Linked DNA regions of Homo sapiens. The protein of the gene in region 1 interacts with the protein of each later gene in a pairwise test. Each region holds a gene or a part of one and is shown on either strand. Other genes may lie near its edges.

Region 1 (7,300 bases):
CAATGGCAGCATCTTTATTGGACCACAGGTGGGGAGGCTCAGGTGTAGTATGAGGCTAATGGGTAGTGGGGGAGGTTGGGGGATGCTCTCCATGCCTTAATTTCTCTGAGTATAAATGGAAAGTATAATTATACCTATCTTGTAGCATTCTGTGAGGACTAAATAAAATAATCCATGTGAAGACACTGGCAGGCTACCTTATCCATAATAAACCCCCAAGAAATGTTGAGTCCCTCCTTTCCAGTCCCTAAATGCTCTGATGGGAATCAATTCAACCACCAGGCTCAGTGGTCATCTCTGAACAGTGTTGACCCCTGAAGAAGATTAAGCTCACCTATGTCCTGGAATGGCTCCCAAAGACTTGCTAATTTTAGAAAATCATTTAGAGTCCTTTATCTTCCCCTCTCTGACCCCTCCTCCGAACACTCTTGGAAAGGAGAGATGTCCAGTTTGTGGCCCACAGCCTGGGAACTAGCTCGGGGACGGCCCTAATTTAAAACCCAAGCTGCCCAGTAAGTATCATATCTAAACACGCAATATGATCTTGGGTCAGACCCTCACTCTCCTTGGGCTTCAGTGTCTTCATCTCTAAAACAAAGACTTGCATTAGAAGATCTCTAAATTCCCTACAACTCTGAGACTGTGTGAATGATCTTTTCCTAAGTGTACCCTTTCATGGCTAGATTTCAGGGCTATGCAACAGACAGTAAACCCATTGAGGAGTTCCAGAATCTTACCACTTCATAGATAGTGCTATTGAAGGAAGGGCTGTGGTTCCTCTTCCTGGATCCAGACTAGAAATTCAGAAGGTAAAGAATACTTAACTTCGAGATAAGTGCTCTCCCACTCCTAAGTGATGTGAGAGGTCCCAAAAGAGACTCAGGGCCCAGAAAAATTCTGAGGCACTCTCAGCCAGAAAATGAATAGAATCTGTCACCCTAGGAGCAAAACAATGGTGTTTATGGTCTCCAGGGAAGACACAATATATACAGTATTTGCCTATAATATGATATTTCTGAACCAAAATCAGAATTTGCTGTTCCATACCCACATACACCTAAAACCCATACACATATGTGTGTGTGTGTGTATATATATATATATATACACACACACATATATATACATATTTGTGTATATATATACACACACACATTCCCAGAGCACACACACATACACATACACATACACATACACATACACACATATCCCTCAGGCAATCCTAATGCAAATACTGCCCCAAACCATGTATCTCTTCAACGCATGCATACACACACCCTTAATGTAAACAATCCAGGCATATAAATAATTGCCAACCCAAGGACACTAGAATTCAGAGGCACATTCAGTAGCATATAGAGTTTACATACACCAAAGCAGGTGAACATGGTGCCTGTGAACATCTATATGGCCTTATATTGTAGCATATAATTAAAAACAAATCTCTCTCACGATGGGATCCAAGTAGGTTGAATGGCTTATTGGAAGGAGGTTGAATGAAAAGTCTGAAAATCTGTCCTAAACCCCTTCAAACCTGTGGTCCCTGACCTGCATGGACTTCCACAGTTGTGTGGACTCCCAAATTCCCATACTACCATGTTAAGGCTTTCTGGCTTCACACTGTGGCTCCAGCCTTGGGAACACCACTCTTCCCATCCCCTTCCATACAAGAGAAAAACAATGACCATGTGTACCAGGATACCCAACTCTGTTTCCAAGTACACAAGAGAGCTACGAACTCAGCTTGGAGAAGGATTTCAGTGCAAAAGGATGGGTTGCCTCAGTCCAGAGGCCTCCACCAGCAGGTGACTGACTGGCCAGGACCTTTCTCTGGTCTCTGAAGGTCAAGATTGTGTCTCTCTAGATCCAGTCTACTCCTCCAGCTCCAGGCAATATGCCCTGCCTTGCAAACCCCTCCAGTATCTCTCACCATAGCCTCAGCTGACCTACTAAGTACCCCGTAGTCTCTCTGTGCAAAGCACCTCCTTTCTGTCTCTGACTGTCCTTTACCTCCCACAGAAACTCCCAAAAACTCATCTAGTCTACTGTTCTCTTAGTCTAGAAGCTGTTATTTTTCTCCAGACAGAACCAGTAAGGCATTTCTCATTGGCCCATTGACATTTAAATACAGTCATTTAACAGAAGCTACTCAGATACACACAATAAAGAACAACTTGCCAGGATGTGCACACACACTCTCACTGCAAACACATGCAAAATACACATCTACATCAACAACACCCCACCACCACCACGGGAAGAGGCTCACCTTCCTGGAAGGCTGAATTAATGAATATAATGTATATGCAGGTTCTTGTGACGTGGGAGCAGAAGACTAATGAGAAGAGAAATAAAATCATTTCAGAAGCACAGATCCAGCACAATCTTACAAAGGTTATCTCTTCCGTTTCTCCTCCTCAACCCTGCCCAGATGGAAGCTTCAAGTGTTAGTGAAAAGAGCCCTGGACTAGCCAGGAGGTCAGACAACCTGAGTGCTAGTCTCGCTCTGTCATTAATGAAAGCTTCTATTTGTTGAGCATTTATCTTATACATGTATTCTCCTCTAACTGTTTTTTTGTTTATTTGTTTTTGAGACAAGAGTTTCGCTCTATTGCCTGGGCTGGAGTGCAATGTCTCGATCTTGGCTCACCGCAACCTCTGCCTCCTGGGTTCAGGCAATTCTCCTGCCCCAGCCTCCTGAGTAGCTGGGATTACAGGTGCCTGCCATCATGCCCAGCTAATTTTTGTATTTTTAGAGACAGGGTTTCACCATGTGGGCCAGGCTGGTCTCAAACCCCTGACCTCGTGATCCGCCCGCCTCGGCCTCCCAAAGTGTTGGGATTACAGGCATGAGCCACCGCGCCTGGCCTCTTCTCTAACTCTTTTAACACTCCTATAAAATAAGAATGATCATAATTTGCCCCATGCCACAAATGAGGCTCCAAAAGGATAAATAGCCCAAGTCAGGCAGTGCGTACACAGTAGAAGCAGAATTCAAACCCAAGACTCTCCAGGGCTCTTTCCTCAACACCTCAATGCCTCCCTTTGGCAACTTGCCTCCCTTCCCTGGACTGGAACCAGGTGTCCTCTAAATCAGGTAAACATTCTCCTTTTAAGATGCTCCAGAGGAGGACTGTCATTCTCACCCAACACCATAGTTTGAGGGGACCTCTTTCTTGCACTGATAGAAATTCCTCTCATTGGAGTTCAATGTGGCTGAAACTAGAGAACTGGCAGATATCAACCGCTCTTATAATCAGATTTTCTTTGCCCCACAGCTCAGCCACCAAACTGAAGATGGTGCTCAATTTTTTTTTTCTTTTTTTTAAAGCCATTTTTATCAGAAAGTCTTTTATTACTGGCCACCAGGAGGCAGTGTTTCCCTTGGGAGAGATGTCCCAGCCTGGGTTATCAATGTCATTTTAGCCATCAGTATTAAAGGATGCTTCTCCAGTTTATGAGTGAATTTCTGTAATCCCAGAATATAAGAGGTGGAGTATGAGGAGGTGCAATGGAGACTCAGAAACCCTTTGGCTCAGCTCTGCCACTACCTAGCTATGTAGCCTTGAGATATCAGTTGACCTGAGTCTCGGTTTCCTCATTGTGATATGGAATGTAGACCACATCTAAAGTATTAGAACTATTTTCATGAGGCTGTTATGTGAGATTTAGTAAGAAAATACAGCTGGGTGCAGTGGTACACACCTGCAGACCTAGCTACCCAGGAGGCTGAGGTGGGAGGATCACTTGAGGCCGGGAATTCAAGGCTTCAGTAAGCTATGATTCTACCATTGCACTCAGCCTGGTAGACAGAATGAGATCCTGTCTCATAACGGGTATACCAAAAATCTCACAAATCACCACTAAAGAACTGACTCATGACACCAAATGCCACCTGTTCCCAAAAAAACCTATGGAAATAAAAAATAAATAAAGAGACCCTGTCTCTAAACAATAAAATTGTTTTAAAAGAAAAGAAAATGGACATTATTGCTAAGTCATAATAAAATAAAAGAGATCAATGCAGATTCATTCTTTCCTGAAAACGAATATAATAGGGAATAGGGATAAAAAGTGCAAGGGCCCCAAGTATTAGAAGCAGCAGCAGGGCAAGAAAGCAGAAGTTGAGTCCCCTAACCAGGTTTCTGCTCCTATAGACTTTATCTGGGCCAGACCTTCTGCCAGACACGGAAGAAGAAGGAATGTCCACATCAGGCTTCCCAGCTGTGTTAAGATGCTCTAGTATCACACGGATCTTTTCAAATAATGTGTTAATGCAACTGAAGCCAAGCTATCTTCTGGATTCTAGAAGCACCAAGATCTTATTCTGCCATTCAATGGTGTGAGTTTCAGGGGGGCATTAGGAAACCCCAGAGATAGGTATGGAATGGACTAGAGAAACTGGAGAGGTACCTGGGACTGGATCATAGAGTAGATGGTGCTCCCCCCTCCAGGAAAAGTCTGCTCCTGCTCCTGCACAAGAAATGGAGATGGGGTAACATGAGCGACAGTTCGGTCTGTCCAGATTTAGATTGAGTGGGGAAAAACAGCACAAAGAAGAGGGCTTTTCAGGAGACTGGGAGGGAGGTGGCAGGACTGGGGAGAGTCATTGATCCTCCCAAGATGGGAAGAGACAGGAAGAAGAGCAGTTTGGAGTGGAACCATTAGTATCAGGAGCAAGGAACCACCTAGGTGTGAGGGGTTCCAGCAACCCTGCTCAAAGAGAATGCTGTCACTTTCTTTCCTTTAGTAACTTAGAAACCCTTCCTTGCAGAGCTCTGAGTAGGGCTGTTATCTGAGCCTTACCTCAGAGCACTGAAATTCAGAAAGTTTAAACATTTCAAAGACCAAACACAGTTAAGCCCTCTCTAGATCATCTTTGAGGCCACCTTGCCCTTGACCTCAAGTCAGCGCCCTGGGCAGCTATAGTGCTGGGTGCAGCCCTGAACCCAAGGGCCAAAGCAGGAAGCAGAGCTTCCTGCTTCCCTTTTCTTGTTCCTACCCCTTAGGAAATCGGTGGTGGAGGTATTTCATGCTGCCGGCCACTGAAAGCATATTGCCAGTTTGGGTTCTACTGGGAGCCAGTGGAGGCAGCAGGGTTCATTAGGCAAGGTGCAAGCAAAATTCCTGGAAGCAAGAAGAAGCTAAGAGAAGCAGAGAACTGTCAGCTGTCCTTAGAGGCTGGGGAGTCATGGGCATCTGACAATGTCAATAACTTCATTTGTGTTTTAAAATACTGCAGGAGTTTGTTGCTTTTCTCTCCCGTCCAGACCCGTGTGAAGTGTTTCTAGAAAGATTAGAGCTGGGTCTCAAAGTGAGACCACATGAAACTTGAGATTTAGGCCTTCAAATTGGAGCCCTGAGACAATAGGGAGAGGCCAGAGAGGGCTGAGGCCAGGCAGGGAGGAGCTCTTGAGTCGGAAGAAGTAAGCTAATAGGCCTGAATCCCAAAGAGGTTTCCTTTGCTCTAAGTTGTTTTTCCTCCTGTGGTCTCCTAATCTCAAGTCATCTTCTTTTTGGAAAAATAGATTATTTTTAGCAAGCACCCGGGCATCACTGGCTGTGGGTAGATTCACATGCTTTCAGGAATTTGTACCAGAGTCTGGTAGCAGTGAGAGAAACAAAGTCCCCTTTTATTATTCACATTCCAATAGCCACTGCTTTATTTTTCACATTCCCATAGCCACTGCTGGGGCAAAAATAAATAAATAAATAAAGATAAAAATAAAAAAACAGGCATGGGGAGCTGCTCTAACAGCCTCTGAACCCAGAGGCATCTGGGAGAGGATGCTTGCCTGCTCTGCGAGGCTGCACAGGGCCTCACGTATGTGGCCAGCACGGAAGAGCCCCACCACATGTGCTTCCTGCGTGCTGCTGGGTCTCCACAGCAAAGCGCCAGGGGGCAGTGGAAAGAAGGCACTTCCGCCCCACTTCACCCACCCTGCCCCACTTCCTGCCAGCAGTTTGGTAGGCTCCATCAGAGCTTTTCCCCTGGGCCTGTCACCACATCTGCCCTAAGCGAGACACAGCAGTGGGGGCATCTGCAGGCCCTCTGCAATTTCCTCCTCTTCTAATTCTTGGATGACAGGCAGAGTTGGCCCCTGCCTGCTGCGAAGAGCAGGCGAGAGGCTCCTGGAGGAGCCTACTCAGGCTGGTGGGCTTTGTGCCAGGCTGGTTACTCTCTCTAGTACCTCAGCCACACTCAGGCCTCTTCTTCCAAAAGGCTGTGAATGCAGCCTATTGAGCCAGCTACAAAACTATTATGCTTTGGCTGGTCACACTTCCCAGCCTGTGTCACCATTAAGGGACTCATGAATGTAAGCCCTGACTCATTAGGAAAAAGAATTTGTGGTCAGACAACAAATACCACAGCAGCACTCTGCCTCTGTCATTGATTTCTGTTGTGCTCCATCCCTTCTCAGCAGGTGCAATTCTGCACCAAGATGCCCCTTCAGCCTCCCTTTCATCTCCTCTGCTCCTTTTGTTTCCTCTTTTCCTCCATCACCAGAACTAGGAAGCAGGTGGAGAAAAGATAGATGGGGAAGGGCTGAGGGTCACATCAAAAGGACAGTCGTTCAGTCCTTTTTGTCCCTCTGCTCTGAATAACCATCATTGAAAGAGCATTTTCCAAGCCAGCTGAGAGAGACCCCAGCCTCCGGGATGACATACGTGATTTCTCCTGGTTTTCAGATCCTTGACATCTTCGTAAATTGTCAAAAATTCCTTGGGACTGGTCTCTGAGGGAGGAAGAAAACAAAGAGCAGAGCTGCAGAAACCTCCAGAAGGGCTTTTGCTTCTAACAGGTCCCACCTCTACCCCAAATGGCCAAACCTTAAAAAAGGTTCTAGAAAGGAGGCAAGTTAATGCTCTTCCCAGGAACCCCAAAGAGCACAGAGGCAGCAACCGAACTGCCCCTCCCACACCTCCTCCCAAACCAGCTGTCTACAGGGAAATCTGCGCATTGGGATCAGAAGGCATGAACTGGGAGAGAGAGCCTAGCAACCTGCTTGCCCCCCGCCACCACGCACACAAACATACCAAAGCTCGTTGAGGAAAAGGAGATGCTGTGCTCCCAGACACATCCCACTGGACGCAGGACAAAGTCACAGGATCCAAGGCCTCAGGCAGGAGCACCACCCTAAGGACCTTCCACTCACCTGACTGCTTCTCCTTCCTCTTTCTCCTCCACACACAGAAGCAGGCAAGGGTGCCAAGGAACAGTGCGCTTAGAATCACGATGATCACCAAAAACGGCCAAAATCTGAATTCTGAGGAATACAGAAGGCGTGAGAACTGAGCT
Region 2 (2,877 bases), 150 kb from region 1:
GCAGTTTTCTGAAGGGGAAGTGCATTCTGTAGTGACCCTTTCAGCTCCAGGCACATGAGGAGACTTAGAGGAGGGGACATTAAGCAAAAATCCCAGGTGTTATGTCAGTGGTGGGCCTGGGGGCGCCTACCTGCATATAGTGGACAACTCTGGTGAGAACACTGTGTCGATCTGATGGTTTTTTTGGATCCAGTGAAACGACTAGGAGTTGAAGACTTGCCCACACAGTCAATGGAAAAGAGGAGAGAGAATTCAGCTCCCTATGCGAGGCTTGTGGGGCAGGAAGGCTTCTTATGAGATAGAGCTGCATCCTTCCTTCTGCGAGAGCAAGCCTGAACCTATGTTTGCAGCAGACTTAAGGAGAGTGGTCCTCAGAGGGGTCAGAGCAAGGCAAGCCACTGGGAAGGAGGCAAAGGCTTGGCAGGGGAGCTGGAGCCCCAGGAAGCTTAGCATGGATGTTGGAATAAGGGTCAGAAGTAGCACAAATTGGCTCCTCAGCTGTGTTGACACACAGGAGCCGGTGGCTCCAGGCTCTCCCCTCTGTGTCTCCAGATTCCAGTTTCTCCCAGCTGATGGAGCAGGCACTGTCTGACAGATTTGGGACAACTTCAGGAATTCAGTTAATTGACAATTATATCAAATGTTTATTTTAAAAAATAATAAAACATTCACATAATGTTGTCACAATTTTGGGTGGGAAAAAAGCATGTGTATCTCTATATCTCTGTGTACTAGAAAACAACAAAGGGATATAAAATTAAATAATAACCAGTATTTAAAAGTTAACTTGAAAATCCTCGTTGATAATTCAGCAGCATGCTTCTGGTCAGCCTATACAGTCTCTGTCCTGGTGAGGAGCATGATCACCAACAGGCAAGATCTTCTGGCCTTGAAGTTTCGCTTGAGTTAAAAGAGCTCATCTCAGGTAAGTAACAGGCCAAGAATGGTGGGCACCGTGACCACTAGCCAACTTGCAATCCATTCTACTCCAAAGGACCGGGCTGAAAGAGCAAGAAAACCCTATATGCTTAGGTATCTTTATCTTGACTAATGTATTGAGAAGGGGCAAGTGTACTGGACACTGGTGTGGGAGCTCACAGAGCAGGGAAATTAATTTCTTCCCTGAATCCCATCCTATTTGGCTGGGACATTCTTTTCCTCAATCTCCCCAAACATAAAGTATAAAAAATGCAGAAATTCCTTAAATATCACTGGCTTACCTGGGCCCTGTGCTCAAAGGTTACCTCGACATATCTGTGGCCTGGGAAAGCATTGCTCCCCTACTCTGGACATCAACGAGGTAGGGTAGATCTTCAGGTACAGACAGATGACCACATGATACAATGCACAGCTGACTTTAGAGAGAAAAGGACCACTTCCTTTCCTTGTTTCTCTACCCCACTAAGTATCTGCACCAACTAGGAAGAAGAAGGGAAGAGAAAGGAAGACAGAAAAGGAAAGGAAAAGAAAAAGGATGGAAGGAAAGCTTAGATGCTGGGGTGGGGAAGGGCTGAGCTGGAGAAAATAAAAAAAAGGAATGAGTGATACAGTAGGGAAAGGAGTTTGAGGGGGCTTTCTAGGATAATTTCGGTGACTAAAAAGTGACAGATGGGTTTACCCTTCCAAAAAAAATGGATTTATTATTGCTTTTATCCTCTCTTCGGATGAACAGTCACACCCATTTTATAGAGGACAGGGAATGTGCGTCTTCCTTTTTCTGGATCTCAGGATGTGATATTGATATGAGGGTGGTGTTGGAACCACCAGCCAAATTGTGTTCTCATGGTCAGATACCACACTGTCACAGTGGGTCTGTGGTGGCAGAAGAGCAAGGCATATCAGGAGAGGCTGGTAGAGACAGGGCCAATTAGTTAGGAAGAATAAGGAAGAGCATACACAGTCTCCGTAGTCCACATGTGGGAGTAGAGATAAAGAAATCAGTGCAGTTAAGGAGGGTAGACAGAGCCCAGGAAGACCACAAAACAGCAACGTTCTCAGAGGCCAGAATCCCTGATGACTGGGCATGACAGGGGTCACAGGTGAATGTGAGCACCTCAGGTCTGAGTTATTCTAGAAGAATGTGTACGCTAGGGCTCAGGGATCTGACTTCAGGATTGTGGAGGGTATCTGACTCTGGTATTTCCCAGAGTGCTGGAGATATTGATCCAAGTTTATTAAGGGTCCCCAAAACTCTAAGAGACTGCGTCTCATTTAGCTCCCGCTTACTAAGGACTTGTCAGCCACTGTGATAGGCAGTTACGTGTCTTGTCTCATTGAATCCTTAGCACGAGATAGGAACTGTTATTTTGTCCTTTATTTAGGAAGAACATGACTTGGGGAAGCTAAGTAACTTGTTTAGCTAGTAAGTGACAGTCCTAGAAGTGACCCCAGGTATGACTGACTCTAAAACCCATGGCCTTAGCTGTCCCATGCTAGCACCAGTGTAGGCCTGATCTAGAGCCAGGTGTGACACTCATGAGTGGATCCTCCCAGGAGACAGGGGAATCTGGCTTCCTAAGTTCATCTAGGAACATCAGGCTGGGGAGGAGAAGCTTCGCCTGAGGCTCAGGCTCTCACGCCTCCTCGACGGCCTCTCTCAGGCCCGTCTCCTCAGTCCCTCTTTCCCTGGCTGACTTTGGCGGTCTAATGACCTCGGTCCCTCTTTCCTTGGCTGACTTCGGCTGTCTAATGAAGCCCCTCTAGACAGCTGCTCGCCCACTTGCCCTTCCTTCTCCCTGCTCACCCTGATGTTTCAGTCTACTCTATGATGACCCTGGCCTCAGATGTTAGGACTATGCTTTGTTAGAGCGGGAGAGGGAAGAGGAGTATCAGAGATCTCTCCCAAACGTCCTTTGCAGGTGAGAACACTGAGCCCCC

The links.
Region 2: the proteins of CD244 (region 1) and CD48 interact in binary tests that used the Homo sapiens proteins (3 or more experiments, as listed by UniProt).

The regions. Positions count from the first base shown.
Region 1 is NC_000001.11:160,831,782-160,839,081, forward strand, and holds part of CD244 (natural killer cell receptor 2B4 isoform 1 precursor), read right to left. Parts: intron 7,269-7,300; coding exon 7,158-7,268; intron 6,738-7,157; coding exon 6,670-6,737; intron 4,474-6,669; coding exon 4,414-4,473; intron 2,336-4,413; coding exon 2,270-2,335; intron 939-2,269; coding exon of another isoform or gene 909-938; exon of another isoform or gene 795-908; coding exon 738-794; intron 1-737. UniProt on the Homo sapiens protein: Heterophilic receptor of the signaling lymphocytic activation molecule (SLAM) family; its ligand is CD48.
Region 2 is NC_000001.11:160,678,131-160,681,007, forward strand, and holds the end of CD48 (CD48 antigen isoform 1 precursor), read right to left. Parts: exon of another isoform or gene 2,297-2,877; intron 1,002-2,296; coding exon 922-1,001; 3' UTR 616-921; downstream 1-615. UniProt on the Homo sapiens protein: Glycosylphosphatidylinositol (GPI)-anchored cell surface glycoprotein that interacts via its N-terminal immunoglobulin domain with cell surface receptors including CD244/2B4 or CD2 to regulate immune cell function and activation.